2 separate regions of the Homo sapiens genome follow, and region 1 is linked to region 2. Evidence: fine-mapped QTL for protein levels in blood plasma. A gene starts in region 2. The other region holds a variant in brackets. All regions are shown on one strand. Distances are from middle to middle.

The links. PIP is the posterior inclusion probability: the model's chance that the variant is causal. The UK Biobank Pharma Proteomics Project read protein levels with antibody pairs (Olink). The fine-mapping took linkage between variants from a reference panel, not from the people measured, so its PIPs are less certain.
Region 1: its variant is fine-mapped to the plasma level of the GC protein (UK Biobank, PIP above 0.99).

Annotation. Positions count from the first base shown.
Region 1 is chr4:71,747,912-71,759,039 of GRCh38, forward strand. GC (GC vitamin D binding protein) reads right to left here. Exons shown (of 13, transcript NM_000583.4): 7 at 10,131-10,260; 8 at 8,801-9,003; 9 at 7,067-7,196; 10 at 6,500-6,597; 11 at 4,607-4,739. Among named protein-coding and RNA genes, the nearest start is that of GC, 31 kb to the right of the region's middle. The variant A/G (reference allele first, on the strand shown) is at 4,147.
Region 2 is chr4:71,779,092-71,790,219 of GRCh38, forward strand. GC (GC vitamin D binding protein) reads right to left here and starts at 4,988. Exons shown (of 13, transcript NM_000583.4): 1 at 4,870-4,988. The coding sequence starts at 4,927.

The DNA.
Region 1 (11,128 bases), 31 kb before region 2:
CAACCTGGTATCATTTTTGCTACTTAAAAATAATTTTGGATTTTCAGTCAATAGTCTTCTATCAATAGTTTGCTTTTGTCATGACTAGCTAAGTTAGGGCTGACGTCTATGACAAGGACATTGAGGGAGAGTAACAGACTAATACAGAATAAATTTAGATTTTTCTAACATCATATAACCTCTGTAAGTTTCATTCAACCCATCTGTAAAAGGGGGAATTAAAATATTAATTAACATCTAGAATTGTTTTGGGTTATTCTATAAATACATACATGCCAGGCTATTAATATTTCTGCTTAACAAATAGCAATGGCTTAATCAATGATAGCTATGACACTGAAGATTATAAAATCAAGTTATACTGAGAGATAAAACAAACTACAGTGACTATACTAGTTTTTCCTGACACAAGAAAGACAGGTGGTGGGGGGTAGACAGTATATCACTCTACTTGTCAGTCTCCTCTTTGCCCGGCTTCCACTTGGCTATTTGTATTTGTCTCTGTGTTTTTAAGATTTTAGTGATCAATTCCAGCATATTACAATGACTTTTGGAATACTTTGGGAAATCATATCTGATGCTCACTAGCAGTCTGTTGAAACATTTTAAAGGAAGCATAGTAATGAGTTCTCAGAAGAGCCCAAAGGGATGCCCTGCCTGAATGATGGTAGAAAGAGAAAAGAAGATTTCAAGTCTAATTTTGTAACTATAGGTTTTTCTGTAGGCAAATGGGTCTTTTTTGGCATAAACAAATGAACCACTTCTAAGAGTGCCATGGTAAAGCCAAAAGAAAATGACATTGATTGTTCTATTTCCTGGTCATTTCAAGATTGGGTGAGGATAGGGGTAGATACCCATGTAATGAAACACTAAGTATGGTTCAGAAGCCCCTTTTCCCAGTCTTCCAGTAGTTGTGCCAAGTGTATTTGGAATGACAAGTAGAGACTGATCCCTGGATATAAGTGACTTGCAGTGAAAGGAGTAGATGGATATTACTTTTAAGGAAAAGTTTTTTCAAGCAAATGTATGACAAGGAGATCTCACAAATTAGGATCCAAATATTATAGGACAAATGGGACATTCACGTTAGGCATTGGAAATTAAAGAGAATGCTGTTCAAACAGATGTTGCACTAAAGTAAAGTCAGAAAGGAGGGGTGAGCTTGCCTACCTAGCTATGAGATCAGTTTACAAAGGCAATCAGAGGGCTAATTGAAATAGCAGAGGATTTAATCTCTGTGTACTCTGAATAATCAAATGTGCACAAGTATCTCAACAACTCCATTCATCGCACTCTACTTTAGCAATTACTGAAAGGCTACTCAGCTGCTATAAATTTACTGTCGATAAAGCAAGAAGTGAGAGAGCTACAAACCTGTCTTCTCATCATTGTAATGATTTGAATGGCAATATGTTATATTGAAAACCAACTCAAAGAAATGAAAAACCAGGGGCTTTTAGGAAGCATGAATTTGCGCTTAAAGCTCAGTTTGTCTTGTATGGTGTCAGGCAGGACAGTGCATATCTGTATAGACAGATAACAAAGGGACAGGGAAAGGTTTCAAAAGTGATATTTCTTATAGAATCTAAAAGACATTTAGACTGTTTTCTTCTTCTTTCGTAATAACAGACTCTCAGAGAAAATTTTTCTGGTAGCAAACAACTTCTATGTAAGGTGATTTTATTTTTCTAGGTTAAGGCCACCTAAATTGGAACTAAATTTAGATTACTAAAAGCAACTTGGTATGAAAAGAAAGAACTGTTCAATTTAATTAATTATTTTATGCTAAAAATGTTTTAATGACCAAAATATTCTGACAATCCAGCTTCTTCTGTTTTTATGTTGAGAATCTTAAGTAGTTTGAATTTTAATGAAAGATTAAGATGGCATATTTGTCAGGAGAATTTAAAGAAAAGGCTTTTATTCTACCGTACTCTCTTCATCTGGAATTCTGACTTTATAAATTGTTACAAACAAGATTAGCAAATAGGTTTGGGACCAGAGTGTAAATATGGAAATTAGAAAAGAAACCAGAATCCCTAAGGTTATAAGGAAGAAATTAGAAAAAGATGTAGCTCCATTTGTCAAACTAAGACTTTTTTCTTAGGCACTGTACAATAAAATAAAACAAAACAAAACATAACAAAACAAATAAAACTTTACTAAAATATGGATATTAAGAAATTTGGAATGCATAGCCCAAGACTTTAAAAAAATACTTTACACAGCTTAATTTTTAAAAAGTCACTTCAAGTATAAAAGAGCTGCTATTGCGAACAGAGAATAGACATTTTCTAGTTGATAGAGAAAGCCAGGGTGATTGCAGGAGAAATTACAAAGGGAATATCACAGCTTAATTTATAGAAGAATGTTCTCATAATGCAGCTACCTGGCAATGAAATAGGCCATTTCCATTTCTACTCTTAGGAGTAGATAAATTGACTATAGAAATTTAAATGGAGGCTGAATGCACCTCTAGAAGGAATTAACTGAGTGAGAAATTACACTAGATGATCTTTATAGTTTTCTTTGAACATTTATACTTTCGTGACTTGCTTTTTTAAAAATTAAGTTCTTGGGTATTTTTAAATGCAGTCTAATAGAAACTGGGCTTTATTGCTTTCGTGGCTGATAAATGAACAAAACTTCAGGTAAATTCTTAAATTATTTCACTTATAGAAAGGGCCTTCTGGCCGGGCGCAGTGGCTCACACCTGTAATCTCAGCACTTTGGGAGGCTGAGGCGGGTGGATCACTTGAGGTCAGGAGTTCCAGATCAGCCTGGCCAACATGGTGAAACCCTGTCTCTACCAAAAATACAAAAATTAGCTGGGCGTGGTGGTGGGCACCTATAATACCAGCTACTCGGGAGGCTGAGGCAGGAGAATCACTTGATCCCAGGAGGTGAAGTTTTCAGTGAGCCAAGATCTCACCACTGCACTCCAGCCTGGGTGACAGAACGGGACTTCATCTCCAAAAAACAAACAAACAAAAAAAAAACGGGTTTAAGGGCTTCTAATTCTAATTGGCATGAAATCATTTAACCTAAGTATCATTTGGTATGGCATAGAATTGTTCCTAACCCTGCCTCTATATTTCAGAAATAGAGTGGGCAAGACAACACAATTCTTGGAGTTATTACTAATGTCTCCAAATAAGCAGTAAAGTGAAATGAAGTGCTGTTTTTATCTTTTGACTCTTCTAAAAAAATGAAATGCTTGCTGGAGAGTAACAGGTAAAATGGAGGATGTGAACGTATGGGCTGACATTTTCTGAAAAAGGCCAGCAAAATACACCCCTCACCGTGAAAATAGGGCAGATGCTGACTTGGTGAAAGAAATCTTAGCATAAGACACTTGAAATCTCAGAAGTCGAAGCATAGCTCAGGTCTACTAACAATGGGCCCACACAACCTACCTGAGGTCTCCTCCCCTCTCTCACACCTTCAGTCTATATAAAGATGGGCAGAATACAAGATACCAACCTAACACTGTGGTTTATAGGAGAAAACCAATAGGCCTCAGATGTGGTGATTAGATAAACACTAATTCATCTATTAATACTATCAGAGAAAACAAAAAGGTTTGGCCAGAACTGCTGGTGTTTTGCACAAATTAAAAAATAAATGATCTGGCAATTATGCAAATACATTTATGGGAGAGAAGGGGAAAGAGAGAAAGGAGGAGGGGAATAGGGGAAGGGGTTATTTTACTGTTAACAATATTGGACCTGAACCAGGAAGCGGGAGGGGAAGGAAGAAAAAGGGGAGACAGGGAGGAGGGGAAGGGACATTTAAAGAAAGATGAATCCAAGAACTATCCAAAATTGAGGGGAGTAGGGAGGGAAACTGGAAGATATATAGGACTTCTAATATCTTTAGCTTTCAGAGTTTGGAGACAATTGATAGTGTCTAAAAAAGAAATTCGTAATAAAAAATGACTAAAATTTTAATATTCTTTAAAATCATTTTTTAGTTTTTAGAAAATAACTCTTATAGTAATGAAACATTTATGTGACCTTTAGAAATTCTTCAGTTGCATTTTTTTCTTATGTCATATTAAAACAAAGTTAAATAATATTTTTATAATTAACATATTAATAGAAGGTATGATATGACCCCATTTTTCTAAAGTATTTATTTTTATCA[A/G]TCTACCTGCCTATATATGCATATGTATGTATCTACATAAACACACATACAGATATATGAAATACAATTTACCTTCACTATGTGAAGGTAATGAACTCTGATGTTCTCACTGTATTCTTATTCTTCTCTTTTTCATTTAAATAGGCTGTTACTAGGTTACAACTCACAATTTGTAAAACACTACACATACTTTGTTGCCTGTGTTCACAGACTCTTTTGTTTCTTAAAAAAAGTATAAAATTTCCTAAGTTTTACAACTACCTCAACTTGCTTTTAAATGAGCATAGCATGAAATCAGTTATGTTTCTTACTTTCATTGCAAAGACAGCCAAGTTACAATAACACCAGGAAAAGCCTGTCACATAATGGCATCTCAATAACAGGAAAGAAATGAGTAGATTGGAGTGCATACGTTCTTAAAAGATTCTGCCATGTTAAGTGGAGGGTTACATTTTCCTACCTCTGAATCACAGTAAAGAGGAGGTGAGTTTATGGAACAGCAGTTGGAGGCAAAGTCTGAGTGCTTGTTAACCAGCTTTGCCAGTTCCGTGGGTGTGGCATCAGGCAATTTTGCTTTTAGTCGCTCTGCCAGTCTGAAAAACCATTTAAATGTAAGGTCTTACTACATGTATTTATTTTATACAAATTTCTAATGCAAAATAATAGCCATTTCAGATCTTTTACAATAAAAATGAAAATAGAAATACTTGCCTGTCTCAAGAAAATTCTATACCTGTGGTATAGAATAGTCAATTTGAGATCAGAAAGTGAAACATGCCTCTTCGAGATCATAAAAATAAACATACAAATCGCTGCTGAATTGGAAGTCCAGTCTTCTTTCATTTGCTCATTATTTCAAAATGGAAGAGTACCTCTTCTATTTTATCCTAACCTTTCACCTTCTCTTCAGTTTTAAATTTCAAATTCCTTAAAGAATATTTCCTTTACAGGACCTCATACCAGCTTAATGCCTTTTTTTCCTCTCATAATTTATATAATTTCACCCTCAATTTATCTACTTCTCAACTCACTATGTTGGAAAACACCAATACAGGAGTAAGGAAATTTTCGCTCTTATTTTTAGCTCTACTAAAAACGAACTCTCCATTTCTCTTTCAGGATGGTGATAAGACTTGATATCTCCTGATTCTTTCAATTTGTACAATCGATGATCTCGGCGTCTCTCCACTCCCATGAACAACTCAGCCTGGTTTTATGACTTTCTTCAGGAAATGCTTGCCAGCCCAGCGGGGGGCAATGGGAGGTAAGGAGACTCAAATTAATCTAGAGTTGGGCTTGGCAAGAGTGGATGCTGGGAAGGGACAAAAGGGTAAGGGGGACCAGTTAGTTCATAAAAGCATTGTTGAAACAAGTAGGTTTGAGCTGCCGGGGGGTGCAAATGAGGCAAGAAGAGACTCAAAGGAGGCAAAAAAAAAAAAAGAAAGTTGGGGGGAGGAGGGAATAGGATCTGAGAAATTTACTAACGTTAGGAAAAATGACATGGTCTTCTCAATGGAGACTTTCCCCAAGAACCCAGTACCACTTCTTACCTTATTGTGGCCTATTATTTTACTGTTAATGTCTATTTATAGAGAAATGCTTTTTCCTTCTCTTAATTGAGAAAAATGACTATTATATAACATTATTGGTAGTTAACATTTCTATTTCTAATTTATAGGGAATATATGCTGGTGATAGCTGACAGTATGCTTGATTGAAAGTTTGGGTCTTCTTGCCAGGCAATATGCCATGAAGTTAGATAACATTTTTAGCAGTTTTATAGGTCCTCAATTTTGTACAGCAATATCTACAGAAAATTCTGGGGTAAGAATGTTGCTAAGCTATGTGCTCATTTTGCCATTTTGACTCAAGTTCCTGCAGATAGATTTCGTCATCTATATTTTTATGGCTGTTTTAATTGGCCACCCACTTGCTACACATGACATGTTTCCTCCAGAAAAACTTAGCTTCTTCTTATACAGATGTTAGATTCCAACTACTTTTAAAAAAATAAAATGATTTAGGGGGTACAAGTGCATTTTTGTTACATGGATGTATGGCATAGTGGTGAAGTCTAGGTTTTTAGTATAATCATCACCCAAATAGTGTACATTGTATCCAATAGGGAATTCCTTATCCTTCACCCCTCTCCTACCCTCCCACCTTTTGGGGTCTCCAGTGTCTATTATTCCACTCTATGAGATTCTGACTACTTTAAAAAACTCCTAATTGAACCTCCTTTTGTTGTTGTTCACTGAAGACAAGCTTAAGTGTTCAACTATGCTTTCAATTCATAGTACTATGAAAATATTATTGATAAATTTGGAGGATACAGCCAGAACAAGTTTCTTACTTTTTCTTGTACTCAGTAAATGTATTTTCTGAATAATCTGCACATAGTTCTTGTCCCTTGTCAATGAAAGAAGATAGTTCCTTCTTTAGTAGAGGGCCCTGTAAGAAAACAATAATTGCATAACAAAATTATTTGTCTTGAAACCTTGTCCCATCAAGCCATTAAATCAAAATTCCAAATATTGTATCATTAAGCATTGGCAACTATTTTCTACAGAAGGCCGGATAATAATTTTAGGGTTTGCAGGCCATATGTGGCCTTTGTTGCAACTACTCAACTCTGTACAGAAGCAGTTGTAAGCTTTGCAGAAACAATGAGGATGATTGTGTCCCAGTGGAAGTTAATGTATGTATGAACACTGAAATTTGAATTTTGAATAATTTTCATGGGTCATGAGATACTGATGTTCTTTTGCTTTTTTCCCAACAATGTAAAAATGTAAAACCATTCTTCTGTTCTTAGTTTGTAGGCCATAAAAAAGTAGGCAGTGAGCAAGTTTTGGCCCATGAACTATAATTTTCCAACCCTTGATCTATGTGCTTGATAAAGAAAATCCAACAAATATACCTTAGCATTAAAACAGGTAGTTGAGTCTTCAACATCACAGCATTCACCAAGGCTTTTTAGGGTTGGCTCAAGTACCTTACTGAGGAATACTTCCGGAAGATGAGTCCTTCTGCTTAGTTCAAATGTATACCTAGCATGAGGGAGAAAAGGAGATATGTGTTATATATTTCCTATTTATTTATTTATTTATTTATTTATTTTTTGTGACAGAGTCTCCCTCTGTCACCCAGGTTGGAGTGAAGTGGTGCCATCTTGGCTCGCTGTAACCTCTGCCTCCTGGGTTCAAGCGATTCTCATGCCTCAGCCTCCCGAGTACCTGGGATTATAGGCGCCCACCACCATGCCCGGCTAAGTTTTGTATTTTTAGTGGAGACAGGGTTTCACCATGTTGGCTAGGGTGGTCTGGAACTTCTGACCTCAAGTGATTCGCCTGACTCGGCCTGCCAAAGTGCTGGGATTAGATGGATGAGCCACTGTGCCTGGCCTACATTTTAAAATGTGAAATATCTATCATAAAGGCAGAGCACCTGGTTTCTGCATCTTAATTAAAAAGAAGAGATTTAGCTCAGACTGACTCTAAATCAACAGGCTTTGGATTATAAAATACTTTCATTGAGATACAAGCTATTAATACTTGCTATTGTGACTAGTCAATACTGAATTAAAGCTTTGCATGTAATATACATTTAAATATATTATATGTAAACATATCTACTTCAAATGCATATGGAACTGTCTTTGTGCAAGCATAATGCAATTGACTCTGTATAAAGCATCAAGTGGATACTTCAAAAGGCTTTTCTGTGAAAATTGGTTTGTGTAAATTCCTTCATTATGTCTTACCCCACTGCTGTCTATGCACTTATAAAAGCAATACACATTTAGAAAAATGTAAAGTTTCAGTCCTATGTAACTTCTACCATCTGATATTGCTAATTGATATTTCAACCTGCTGCTTCAAACTATTTGTGAAATATTTTTATGCCATCATTATGCATACACATCTATTCAAACCATGGTATATTTTTAACTTACTTTTTTTTAGTTGGATGAAACAGGATAAAAGTTTACCATTTCTTTGCATTAAATCTCTTTTTAAATTTAATGAAAATGAATATTGATAATGCTAAGAAAAAAATATTCTGTGCTTGGTATCTCTTTTATTTGTATCAAATGCTTATTGTCCAAAAGTTTAGTATACTTTAGGCTTTTGATTTGTGACTTTGAACCAGAAGTAATATGATAAAACTAGTTAATAATATTATAAACATTTCTGGTTGCATGATATATTTTACATGTGTTCAGCATTGTATGCAAATATGTGTTTTCACATTTACTTTCACTTACATTTCTACATGCATTTCTCATTAGCAGTCTGTGTGCTAAGTAAGGCAAGAGTTAACATTTCCAAATTAATTAACAATAGGCTGAAGTTCAGAATTATCAAGTCACTTCTTTTGGCCATGCACAGGAAACAGAGAAGGCACAATTAGGAACTCTAAGCTCCTTTCTCACTACCCAAAATCTTTCTATCACACTCGATTATGGTGTTTTAAAAATTTTAGTCATTTACAATTAATTAACAAATACTTAAAGTCCATGAAAAGCATAAAGGTAGTACTTTGCCTATGTTTGAAATGAGTGATAGCATACCTTCCCTCCATCTGGCTGGCCCCCACTTTTTGTCCAGATGAACTTAAAATGGGAAAACGTTTTCACATCACCTCTACTTACTTATCCATGACTTTGGTGTTTCCTGGATCACACACATCTTTGTTTGTGGGCAACTCTACATCTGGAAGCTCGGGGAGTTGGGCAGCTGGCATGAAGTAAGTGCACACAAAAACGTCCATGGCTGTTTTTTCTTGACAACAGTCTTCAAACTTAGAATTCTTTGTGGATAAATTGTCACAGAGTTTTACTGTGTGTTCAGGCAGCTACAAAACGAATGGTTAGTTTGTGCATTGTTAGTTTCCTGATAGTCTAATTAAAAATAAGAATTACATAGGCTTACAAGCTTTGGCATCACATTTATGAAAGTCAGTATGAAGACTCTCAGAAAGAAAATTGGTACAATATTTGGAAAGGCAGTTTGTCAATATGTACTAAAAGTCTTAAAAATGTACAATTCTATTTTTAAGAATTTATACTCAGAAAATAATTGTAGATAAAACGACAACAACTATAAGGCTATTAAGTGCAACGATTGCCTAAAATATTTTAAAAAAACCAACACAACCTAAATACAATAGAGGATTAGTAAAATAAAAATATGGTGTGTCTAGATAGATAGATGTAATACATGACATGGATATAGGCAACAGAGTCCTATTTAGCCATTATAAATCCTTATAGAAAAGCATCTATTAACACAGACATGCATTTTTAATGGAAAAAGACAAGGCAACACAATGTATCTATTACTACAGAGATTGACAAGATCTTGGAGACTGACCTTCAGCTAAAGCAATTATTCAAATTTAAATAGTTTTAAAGGATTATGAAAATGAAAAATGGTAAAAAAAATTGAGATGGGCATCAAATTATAAAAAGTATAATAAAAACAGTAGTAGCGTCTACTAGTATAATGGTTGAAGTGCCGCTTAATGGAACTTTACGCAATAATGAAAATGATCTGTATTTGCACTATCCAATACCATTGTGCATTTGAAATGTGGTTAGTGTAACTGAAGAACTGAATTTTAAATCATATTCAACTTAAACATATATGTTTAACTTTAACTATAATTAAATTTAAATGACCATATGTGGTAATGAATACCATACAGTGCAAGTAGCATAAGGTCTTGGAAATCAGATAATCTCATCTTTGCATATGGACTTTGCCACCTACTAGTTGTGTGGTAACAAATTATTGACCCTTACTAATCTTCTGTTTTCTCACCTGTACAGTGATGTTAATAATTATTTATATTTCATAGAATACATGTAAGCATCCGTTAGGATAATGCATATGAAATAGAACTTAGAAGAGTACCTGCCACTCAGTACTTGGCACTCAATACCTGGCACATGGTGATAATGATAATAAAGCTTGTCTTACCTCTTTGGCCATGCAATCTTCAGAGGCAGACTCACAGCATTTGGAGAGGATGTTAGTAATATCTTCAGCTAGTGGCAAAACATCCTCCAGATCAGCAGTAGGCACTTTTTGGGCTAACTTTATGAGATTGCTAAACAGTTAAAAATAAATATGTTAGCTTATCAACATTCTCAGTTTTCTTGGTTTCGTGATGAACGCACTATTTGGAGAAATAATATCACAATTTCACCTCCTTGGCCTCAAGAGATGCATGGGAGCACATCTGCCATGCGATAGATCTTATGTACCCAAGCCACAGACTCAAGATCAAGAGATCCCTAATGAATCTTTCCAAATTTTCAGTACCCAAATGCAGCTTCTCTTCTTGCCAGATATACATAGTGAAAGCACTCCTTTAAAATGTTAGATCTAAAGCATCAATGAAGAAGTCACAAATGTCTCTTTCTATTCATAAGGCCAATGTTGTATTTTTGTGGCCTCTCACAGAGTTGTAAAAGTGTGTTTTATAAATTCTTTTAGAAACTATAGAGACCTGTAGCTTTACACCACAGAGTTAACAAATGTTCACATTTTGGGTGTGTAACCTTTCAGTATTTTATGTGTGAATGGTATGCTATACTATTCTCATATTTGCCTTTTTCACTTAATATACCAGGAATAACATTAAATATTTTTTCAATATTAATATTCCTAATATATCATGAATATGATTAAATATTATTTTAAAAAATTGTGGTGAAAATGACATTAAATTTACTATCTTGACCATTTTTAAGGTATACATTCAGTATTTAAGTATATTTACATTGCTTTGCAACAGATCTCTAGAAATTTTTCTCATGCAAAACTAAAACTCTGTACTCATTAAACACTGATTTGCTCTGCTCCCACTTCCCCTCACTCATCCTCCCATTCCTTGGCAACCACCTTTCTATTTTCTGTCTTTATGATTTTGATTACTTTAAATACTTCGTATGAGTTGGAATTGTACAGTATTT
Region 2 (11,128 bases):
TCTGATGGTAGACATACATATACAAAAACCCAATTTTGTAATATTACACAATAATTTTTTGAACACCTACTAAATGCCAAGTAATGTTCTATTACTGGGAATTACAGGAAATAACAAAAGTTCTTAATTTCACAAGGCTTGCATTCTATATTTGTTACAATAAGCAAATGAACAACCAGTGATAAGGTAAGGTACTAGGTGCTAAGAAGAAAAAATAAATCCAAATAAGGGGATAGAAGATAATGGACTGGTAGGTGTTATTTGTGGTAGGTTGGCTAGGGAAGCCCCCTCTATAAATGGACTTGGAGTAGATGCCTGAAGAAGGTGAGGAAGGGAGCTATGAGAATATCTGGACAATCAATGTTCTAGGAATAGAGAAGAACTAATGCAAAGCCCTGGGGTGCAAAGGACTTAGAGTGTGAGATAATGTGGAGGCCAGTGTGGTCAGATCAGAATGAATGAGAAAAATAGGAGAGAGAGAGAAGAAGCAATGGGTAGAATGAAGAAGTTAGGTGACCAAAAATACTGGGGAAGGGCATCATCAATTCCTTTTAGAGGTTTCTTCATTTTCTCCTGTCCTAAATAGATTAAGCTGGTGGTGTTTTACAGAGTGTGCACACTTCTCCTTATATTACATATTGGTGACTGCATATGTGGCATTGCACCTGATATCAGTAAGATGAAACATTGCTATTGATTTTCAGGGAGGTTAACATTGCTCTCAGTGATGAGAGCTGTATGACTTCAGCCCTTGCGTAGGGCTGTTTTGACAGGGAAGGAAGAGAAGGAAAAGTGTAGCTCACCCACCAACCCAAAGGGAACTTTCTTCTTGCAGTTTTATATCATGTTTAATAAAAAAAAATGCTGTGAATGAAATGCTTAAAGCAAAAAGGAAAATGTTCATAATAAAAACCTCTTTTTGCCAACAGCTCTTATCAACTGCAGTGGTTTATTTCCTGTTGGCATGATTACCTTAATAATTTTGTAGCTGTGTCACGACCCTCTGATCTTTGACAAACCTGACAAAAACAAGAAATGGAGAAAGGATTCCCTATTTAATAAATGGTGCTGGGAAAACTGGCTAGCCATATGTAGAAAGCTGAAACTGGATCTCTTCCTTACACCTTATACAAAAATTAATTCAAGATGGATTAAAGGCTTAAATGTTAGACCTAAAACCATAAAAACCCTAGAAGAAAACCTAGGCAATACCATTCAGGACATAGGTGTGGACAAGGACTTCATGTCTAAAACACCAAAAGCAAAGGCAACAAAAGCCAAAATTGACAAATGGGATCTAATTAAACTAAAAAGCTTCTGCACAGCAAAAGAAACTACCATCAGAGTGAACAGCAACCTACAGAATGGGAGAAACTTTTTGCAATGTACCCATCTGACAAAGGGCTAATATCCAGCATCTACAAAGAACTTAAACAAATTTATAAGAAAAAAACAAACAACCCCATCAAAAAGTGGGCAAAGGATATGAACAGACACTTCTCAAAAGAAGACATTTATGCAGCCAAAAAACACATGAAAAAAATGCTCATCATCACTGGTCATCAGAGGAATGCAAATCAAAACCACAATGAGATACCATCTCACACCAGTTAGAATGGCAATCATTAAAAAGTCAGGAAACAACAGGTGCTGGAGAGGATGTGGAGACACAGGAACACTTCTACACTGTTGGTGGGACTGTAAACTAGTTCAACCATTGCGGAAGACAGTGTGACTATTCCTCAAGGATCTAGAACTGGAAATACCATTTGACTCAGCCATCTTATTACTGGGTATATACCCAAAGGATTTTAAATCATGCTGCTATAAAGACACATGCACATGTATGTTTATTGTGGCACTATTCACAATAGCAAAGACTTGGAACCAACCCAAATGTCCATCAATGATAGACCGGATTTAAAAAATGTGGCACATATAGACCATGGAATACTATGCAGCCATAAAAAAGGATGAGTTCATGTCTTTTGCAGGGACATGGGTGAAGCTGGAAACCATCATTCTGAGCAAACTATCACAAGGACAGAAAACCACACACCACATGTTCTCACTCATAGTTGGGAGTTGAACAATGAGAACACTTGGTCACAGGGTGGGGAACATCATAGCCTGGGGCCTGTCATGGGGTGGGGAGCAGGGGGAGGGATAGCATTAGGAGAAATACCTAATGTAAATGACGAGTTAATGGGTGTCAGCAAACCAACATGGCACATGTATACATATGTATCAAACCTGCACATTGTGCACATGTACCCTAGAACTTAAAGTATAACAATAATAAAAAAGAAAACTTGAATCGAAAAAAAAGAAAAGAAAAAAATGCAAAAAAAATATTTTTAGTGCTCTGTTAACAGTGTGTAACTTAAAACTGAGAATTTTTTTGCTGTAGTTTAATTTTAAAAAATCAATTTTTATAAATGTTTCCTGGTCATTAAGGTAACTTTTCTATCTGCAAGTTAAAAAAAAATTTTATAGCTGTATCACCAGTCTTTGTTACTTGGTTTCTTTGGAAGGGAAGAGGGAAAGATATATTGTATATTAGTATTTCATCCATTTCAGTCCTAGGGGAAGAAGCTACTTGTAGGCAACTGGGAAATACTGCCTTGTTGCTTTTCATAGGGTAGCAAAAGTGGACATTTTCTTATGGTACTAACCAGATTTAGCAGATTTGGTAAGCTCTCTTCTCCAAGATGTACCCAGTGGCTTGGGAACAAGATTCCCAATGCTGTTTGATAGGAGAGGGCTGGCTTAATTGGAACCTGTCCAGTAAAGGGTCATCTGTAACAGTATCCATTTTAGACCCAAGGTTTCCAAAGAATAGTTCCACAGGTATAGACATTGTAGAAAAGGGTCAATATGTTTAGATACTCTGAGTTAGATAAGATTTCTTTCCTGTAGTGTTTCTCAGAACCTTTAGGACGACAAAGGCATGAATTGTGAAACCACCAAGAAGGAATAAATTATGGCTCATTTCTTAAATATATTTGGCCACAGAAACTTCTTTTCAAGGTAAGTCTTGAGTGTAATATATTTTGAAACAGGTGCTTAAATAAATGCTGTGGGTGGTCAGCTCTCTAGAACTATAACAGGCAGAGAAAACTGCAATTCAAACCAATCCCCCACAATACAAGGCTACTCAGAACCTAAGAGTTCTCAGAACTCCCTTAATCTGTACACTTTGTAACTTCCTGCCAGGAAGAACACAGCTAGCTTCTAAGTAAACTGCTGACTTGGTCTTTGGGTCATGCTCAGGTATTAGAGAATAGAGAATTGATAGATCAGGACTACTCTCCCCAAATATTGAAAGTTAATGCTTACAAGTGTATTATGTATGTCTCAAGATATCATCTGGCATATGGCACATGGGTTATAAGAATGAAGTTTAGATCTTCTAGGGGACTGACTGGAGGTTTTTAGCATCCATTTCATCAGAATCTGAGGACTGCTGAGAATGTTGAAATATAGATTGCAGAATGCTCTGTTATTCTCCAAAGGACACTTTCATTCTTTGAGGTGAAGCCAATGTGCACCTATTGAGTCAGCAGTCTAAGATGGTGATTCATGCTCCTGCTTATGGCCTCCATATATAATTCCAATTCCTAGCCATTATTGGACCTTCTGTGTTTGAAGACCCTGATCTGAACCTGCTTCAGTAGGATTTTTCAGGATCAGATCTGCCCCAGCAAATCCTTGGCCAAAAGAATAAGACTTAAAGGGATTTCTTGGAACATGGCCTATTCAGAGGTCTTATAAGGGACACAATTTATGTTGCTTTTTTATACCCTATGCTGTCTGGGAAAGACTTTGTAGTCTTACCTAAGGACGCATAGCTTACTTAAGAATTGATGGGTAAGACGAGTTAAAATAATTTGAATGATGAAATAAGACCAAGGAAAAGTAAATGTAAGAAGAAGAATAAAAAGTCAAGAGTAAGGTTATTCATGTTACAGTTAATAACTGATAATTCTTGGGAACACACATTTTATTCCACTGGCAAAACACATTACTATTATGAATAATAATGTACGAATTAGGTGAGGCTGTTAACTGACAGCACTAAATGAAAACCTTAATTTTACAAAGCAGGATAAATGCAGATGTCCCTTGTGAACATTAAAGAATCAGCCAGAAAAGTAAATTGAAGCTAATGATGAAAAGTTTCCCAGCTGTAGAATTCATAAAGTTGTATACTTCCCATAATCTCAGTCTTTATCATGTAAAAAAATTTTTAAACATTGCCCAAAGATGAACACACCATCTGAAGAATAATTTCAATGAAAAATATAACTGAATTATCTTATTTGTGGTTATGTTTCATAGCTATAGAAAAATTTTATGTGAGGGATATTTTTAAAAATACAATGCATTTTCAAATACTGCATGTATAAGATTCCTCTAAGGGGATCAAAGAAATCTCTAAGTTGACATCATGCATCATTGGCATGGTATATTACACTCAATGGTAATAAATATTTGAAGTCTGAATAAATGCTTAATGGTGGATCACAGTCTTTATTTGCATTATCTTGTAACAATTAGCAAATGTCTAATTTTAAATTATTCTCTCTAGGTCTTGCTTATCAACAAAGGAGGAAGAGATAATTGACAAATTATATCATTCCATTTACTTTCTTTAACAAGATTCTTGTGTTGATTTTTTTTGTCAATTCCAATTCAACATTACATGGCATCGTGGAGCTCTGATTAATGCCTCTCTGGTCCTTATCCCTCTCCCCAACATATTCACCAGTTCTTCTGTTTCTTACTTTTTATTTCATTTTTTAAGTGATAATATAAAATTAAACTAGTAAGAATTCCTGTAAATGGTCACAACAAAAGAAATCTTACCTCTCTCTAAAGCATGTCCAAATGCCACAGCAAGCAGTAGTACCAGGACCCTCTTCATTTTTCTACCAGAGAGTCTTGCAGCACCTCCTCTCTCCTGTAGGTGACCATGTAAAAGTGGTAGCCAAAAGTAATTGGTTTCCTTTTTACAAAGATTCCTGACTATGAATTAATCAATTATTAATCTCAGAAGCAACACAGAATTATTATTAAACACAGAAGCAAGGGGCTGTTATCTTTGGCCCAAAAGAGATAAAATAATATCAATCAAGGTAAATAGACACCCTGGGGATACTGTAGTGGAAAATCTAGGAGATTTTAATCATTAACTTTGTCAAACTGCAAAAGAGCCAAGGTATATAGATTATTTTCCACTGCTGTTCCTCACTAAAGTTTACTTAATATGTTAGTAACGCACACCTTCTCCCCCTGTATAGGGCTGTGTGTCTTCTTTGGACACCCCACCTTTCTCATATGTAAGTGGAAAATCGGAAACTCTGTCTTTACCTCTCTTCCTCTCTTTGTTTAAATCTACTACAAATAAGCATTACCTTAAAATATTGCAGACCAGATGTTCTAAGTAAAAGGGGAAAAAGAGTGAGAAGCCAATTCAACATAATATTTTAAATCCATAATTCTGATGCTATGAAGTAATCTTATTTTAGATGATGGCATAGTACTTTGTATTTCTATGCTGTATTGCACTTTGTGAAGCACTGACATATATATGAAAAATAACCTTTGAAGTGAGGCAAATAACTGGAGAGGTTAAATGGCTCACCACTGCCAATCATAAAAAGTTAGTGGCAAATCTTGGACTCCCTACAGTGATTTTAAAGCTCCTTCTACTAATAGTTTACAACTAGTATATTTTATGGGCATGTAATTTGAGAGCTCAGAGAGGCCCTGTAGGACATGAAATCCAACATCTTCATTTTACAGAAGAGTGAACTGAGCACTGGGTAAATTCTGTGACTTGTCTAGAGAGTCATAGGTAGATCATTCATTGGAATTAGATGAGTTCCACTCCTGGTTTTTGCAGTAGCCCTATTTTCAGGAAATGGTCAGGTACAGGTTGTTACACATGCTCTAAAATCAAATCCCTACTCAGCTTTCATAGCTGTGTAACCTTGGGAAATTTATTTTACCCCTCTAAGTTTCATTTTCCTCATATGCAATGTGGTGATAACTCAGTACATTTGACACAACATTGCTATGAGGTTAATTAAGGTAATCTGGGTGCAGGGCTCATGGTAACATCCATCACATAGTAACATGGATTAATGTCACCTATTACTCTTATTCTAGTTATTGCCACGTTCTCCCACTGGCTTTCCAAATTTATAATATCTGTGAAGGTCAATGAAACTAATGAGGCCATTGGAACTCAGTGGAAGAGTTTAAAGACAGCCCTGTGTCCAGGGTCCCGCAGATAAGTGATTTAAAACTTCATTATCAACTCAGTAGCCAAGGATTATCTACATGGGCAGAGTCTATCAAAATTTCAGTAAACCAATTTAGGTAGTTACATGTTTAGTCAGATTTTCTATCTATACTGAAAATCCTTGGGTGTTAGGTTCAGAAAATAGAGTCCAGCTAGTTGGAAAAAGATACCTATGCCAGATCAAAGCACAAGTATTTCTGTAAGGCCAGTGGAAATCCATATGGTCAAGGAGATAGCTTTCCTGTCCAAGAGCCAACTCTATCTTGTTCAAGGATCAACTTCCTGATTACTATAAATCTAAATTTTCAGTTCCCTTTGGCTGAATTCCTAGTTTACTGTGCAAGTTAATTTAAAAATGTATTTTAGTTCTATGGCAAATTATTTGGAAATGATACTCCAAATGAGTGTGAAAAAGTTTAAAAACTACTCAGAACCCCGGAACTCAAAAGAGGTAGGTAACACATTAGCATATTGATACAGTTTTCATTTTTCTTTAAGATAATACACTGTATTTATACTTCTGTATCCCTTTTATTCAACTGTATTTCGTCATCTTCTGATTAGTTCATTCAAAAAGACACACTCAGATTATTTTCTACGAATTTTGATACAGAGTTTAAGACCAGCTCATTCTTTCATTTTTTAAAAAATTAAACTTTATCTCTGCTTTTGCAATAATATTTACCACGTTTGTTTAATGATAAACTACATGTAGCAAGAATTGCAACATCTCATTTAGATGCCCTCTTGAGAAATCTCTATACGAGCTGCCAAATGCATTCTCTTGGCTGAATTTTCTAACTGAAATTCGGCAAAACAGGCTAGTAGCTAAATATATGAGCCTTTTTTTCAGTCTTATTTATGTAACTTTCCTTAATCTTTCAAATGTTGATTGCTTACTGTGATTCTAAAACTGGGAAGAAATAATCATAATTGGCCTAAATGAGAGGCCTCATGTGACAATGATTACTCTAGTAAGTCAGATGGGGAAAAAATGGGTGAAAAAGACCAAATCAAACCTTCTCACATTGTCTATAATAGCAGCAGTTATAGCAACTAGAAATGTATCACTGAATATATATATTTAACAAGAATTATTTATTGAATACATAAGCAGTAGAATTTTGCAGGAGCTGTTTTTCCTGTAAAAAACTGATTTGAAGTAGCCTCTTTCCCTCTTTCCTCTTTTTCCATCTTGCCATTGGCTTCAGAGGAAATGCAGATCTCTTCCTAACTAGGGCTAGTTCCAGGCAAAATTGTGAGGCAGATAAAGCCTGTCTTTAGTTCTTTTCTCTATCCCATGTCTCTTCTTTCAGTAAACCTTAGTTACTAAAAGATAACACTGACAACTGCTCTTTATCAGAACAGTACCTTCCTTTAATGCTGCGACAGTCTTCTAAAAACTCTTGCAGTACTCCTGTAGAAATGACCTTCTTCAGAATGATTTTGTCTGGTGTTCTCTTCGTTCAGATTCTCTTTATACTATTAAAATGCATTATCAGTATCTTTTCCTGATAAATGACCTGACAAAATTGATATTAGTGGATCGAAGTAATATCTTTAAAGTTGATGTACAGAGAAGAACAGAACACAATCCAGGTTTCAGAAAATTCTTATAGTTCAGCCATTTAGCTATGATTGACTTCCATGAGAAATTCCAATATCCTTGTAATAAATCTCTTTTTACTTAAGCTTATTCTAGCTGAATTTGCAATGAAAAGCATTCTAACTAACCTACCTTTAAATCATTCTCCCCTCTGTTACTGTCATTATTTATCAAAAATGCAAATAAGACTGTGTTTCTGCCTCCCTATTTAAAATGACTTAGGCCAATGCCTGTGCTTAAAGTTCATAAATTAATCCTACTTACCTCTAAAAAGGATTCTTTGCTGTGTATGTACATTAAAATTAGGTACGGTTGAACTACTTGTGGTTCACTGAACACATTGTGCTATTGAGCTTTCCACTGTCTTTGTTCACATTCTTCTTTCTTCCCTTACTCTATTTTACGTGTCTGTTGTCCCTCGTCTGTCAGTCTTTCATTTATTCATTTAACATATATTTAATTCATACCACTTTGTACCAAGTAACATGCAAGCTATTGGTACTACCATATCAAAAGATCTACATGGCTCTTCCCCTCATGGACCTTCTTAGTCTAGCTGGGAAGACAGATGTTGAAGACAAAATGACAAGTGTGCTGAGTTGTGAGGGTGCAGAGAATGGGAGGGGTAAGAGTAGATACAGTGAGAGTAGCTTGAAGACTGCTTTAGAAGTCCAAGCAAGGGATGACAGAAGTGTGGCCTGTGGTGCTGGCAGAGGCGTGAGATGGTTTAAGACACAGAATCATCAGAGAGTGGTAATTGACTAGACTTTGGCTGAGGGGGGAAGAGTGAGAAATTATGCCCAAGTTTCTAGCTTGTGCAAGTGGATGGATATTAATGCCAATATCCAAAATAGAAGACACTGAAGAAGACACACAGTCTGATGGAAGATGTTTTCAGGTGGAATTTTGAGTAGGCAGCTGGGTCCATGACTCTGGAGCTTGGAAGACACCCAAATTTCCAGGTTGTGCTGAGTCCACCTCCTCTGTGCTTTGCTCTCCCACAGTGCTCCTACTATAGCTAAATCACCTTCATTTTGGTATTCCCAACAGCTAGCACAGCTAGCACAGATAGAAACTGAATGTAGTAAACACTAGTCATAATCAGTTTAATGAAGGAATTTAAATGCCTAGAGAAATTTATCAACCCTGGATTTAAAAATGAAAGACATGCTAGAATTCTGTAATTCGTTTATGCTCACTGAAATCCAGGTATAATTTGAGTAATCATGGTTTTCATGAACCAGCCAATTCATTTTTAATTTTACTTGGATTTTCATGAAAATCTGCAAATGATTTATTCATATTTTAAAACAATAGGGGCGGTTATAGAAATATATTCCACAGAGTGCAGGAGTTCAGAAAATGCTGACAAATATAAATGAATTTATTAACCAAATGGTTTCATTTATTTTAAAATAAAAATTTGAGGAACAATTAGAGATAAATTGTCTTCTGCCATGATGCTCTTTACTAAGGCTGTAGTAGTTTATGAGGTCTTGTATAACAAACTGCCAAATAACCATAACTTTCCCAAAAACACTTCCATAAAGAAATATACATCACTGAAGAGAAACAGATATTTAAGAGAAATGATGGTTCAGACTAGATGCAAATGATTTTATCTTCTGCTTGAAAAAAAGCAGAAAGGGAGAAAGAAGGAAAGAAAGAAAGAAAAGAAAGAGAAAAAAAGAAAAAGAAAGAATGAGAAAGAAAGAAAGAAATTGAAAATAGAATTTAAAAAATAGTGCAGGAACAAGGTTTATATGAGACTTAGCTGATAATCACAGAGAGGCAGCTACACCTCTTTCCACCTTTATTGGTCAATGGAATGCAGAATGCCATAATAATCACTGTTAAATATATAGTCATAACTAGTTAACTGTGAGCTAAATGTTCTTAAGTAAAATATTTAGGTTCTTAGTATTCTTAAGTAAAAATATTTAGGTTCAGTTAATTAAAAAATGGTTTTATAATAATTTTTTAATGAACTATTTTCCAACACTGAAGCCAGGTAATTTGTAGAAACAGGTCTGAATATTAAAACTGTGTAATTACTTTTACAAGTATTGACAATTGTAGTATATTTTTGCATTATGTATAGAGAGAAAGAGAAGCAGAAGGTGATAAAGAGAAAATGAGAGAATCGAGAAAAGAAGAGAATAAAAGATAAAATATAATATGTGAGAGAATGAGAAAATAAGCCAATATATCCTAAAACATTCATATGTGAACCACCCTGATAGATGTCCCCAAATGTACATATATACATTTAGATTTTAAATATATATATTTCCAGGAATAGAATGGAGTCCTAAAAAATAGAACAAATGTTAATTTTCATAGCCTGGCTAATCTTTGTTAAGAGCTTCTAATAATGCTGTTTTATGTACATTCTCTAATGAACAGGACTCTAAAGAGGAAGGACTGGCAATCTGAATAAATAAAGCTGACCCTTAACTTGGGTTATATGAGTGAGTTTTAAAAAGTTTTCAGGATCATATTGCAAAATAAGTTAAAATATTAGATGATCTAATAGATTCTCTATACTGAAGGAGAAATGAATTTTCTCAGTTTTCAGGAATTTCTTTTCAGAGCCATCTATAAAGTCAGGAAAAGGCAGAATAATGGCCGACCAAAGTTGCCCACACCCTAATCCCTGCAACCTGTAATTCTGTTATGTTACCTGGCAAGGGGGAATTGAGGTTGCAGATAAAATTAATCAGTTTACTTTAAAATACAGGGATTTTCCTGGATTATTAGGGTGGGCTCAATGTTATCACAAAGGTCCTTTATGTGTAGAAGAATGAGGCAGAACATCAGAGTGAAAGAGATGTGAGAAAGAAAGCAGAGGTTGGAGGGATGGGATTGCTGACTTTGAAGATGGAAGGAATCTGTGAGCCAAGAAATGCAGGCAGCCCCTAGATGCTGGAAAGGGCAAGAAAATGGAAAGGAGTGTTAAAATCTCCAATTCCCATTGAGAATTTTAGCACTTCCCCTTGTAGTTTTTAGTCTATTGTGTTTTTGCTTCTTGAAATTTGAAGCTCTGTTATTATACACATACAGAATTTTAATGATTATCTTTCTGATAAGTTATTCCTTTGGTCAGTATGTCCTTCTTTATCTATGATAATACTTTGTCTCGAAATCTGTTTTGTCTAATACTATTAGGTGGGTGCAAAAGTAATTGTGGTTTTTGCCATTAAAAGTCATGT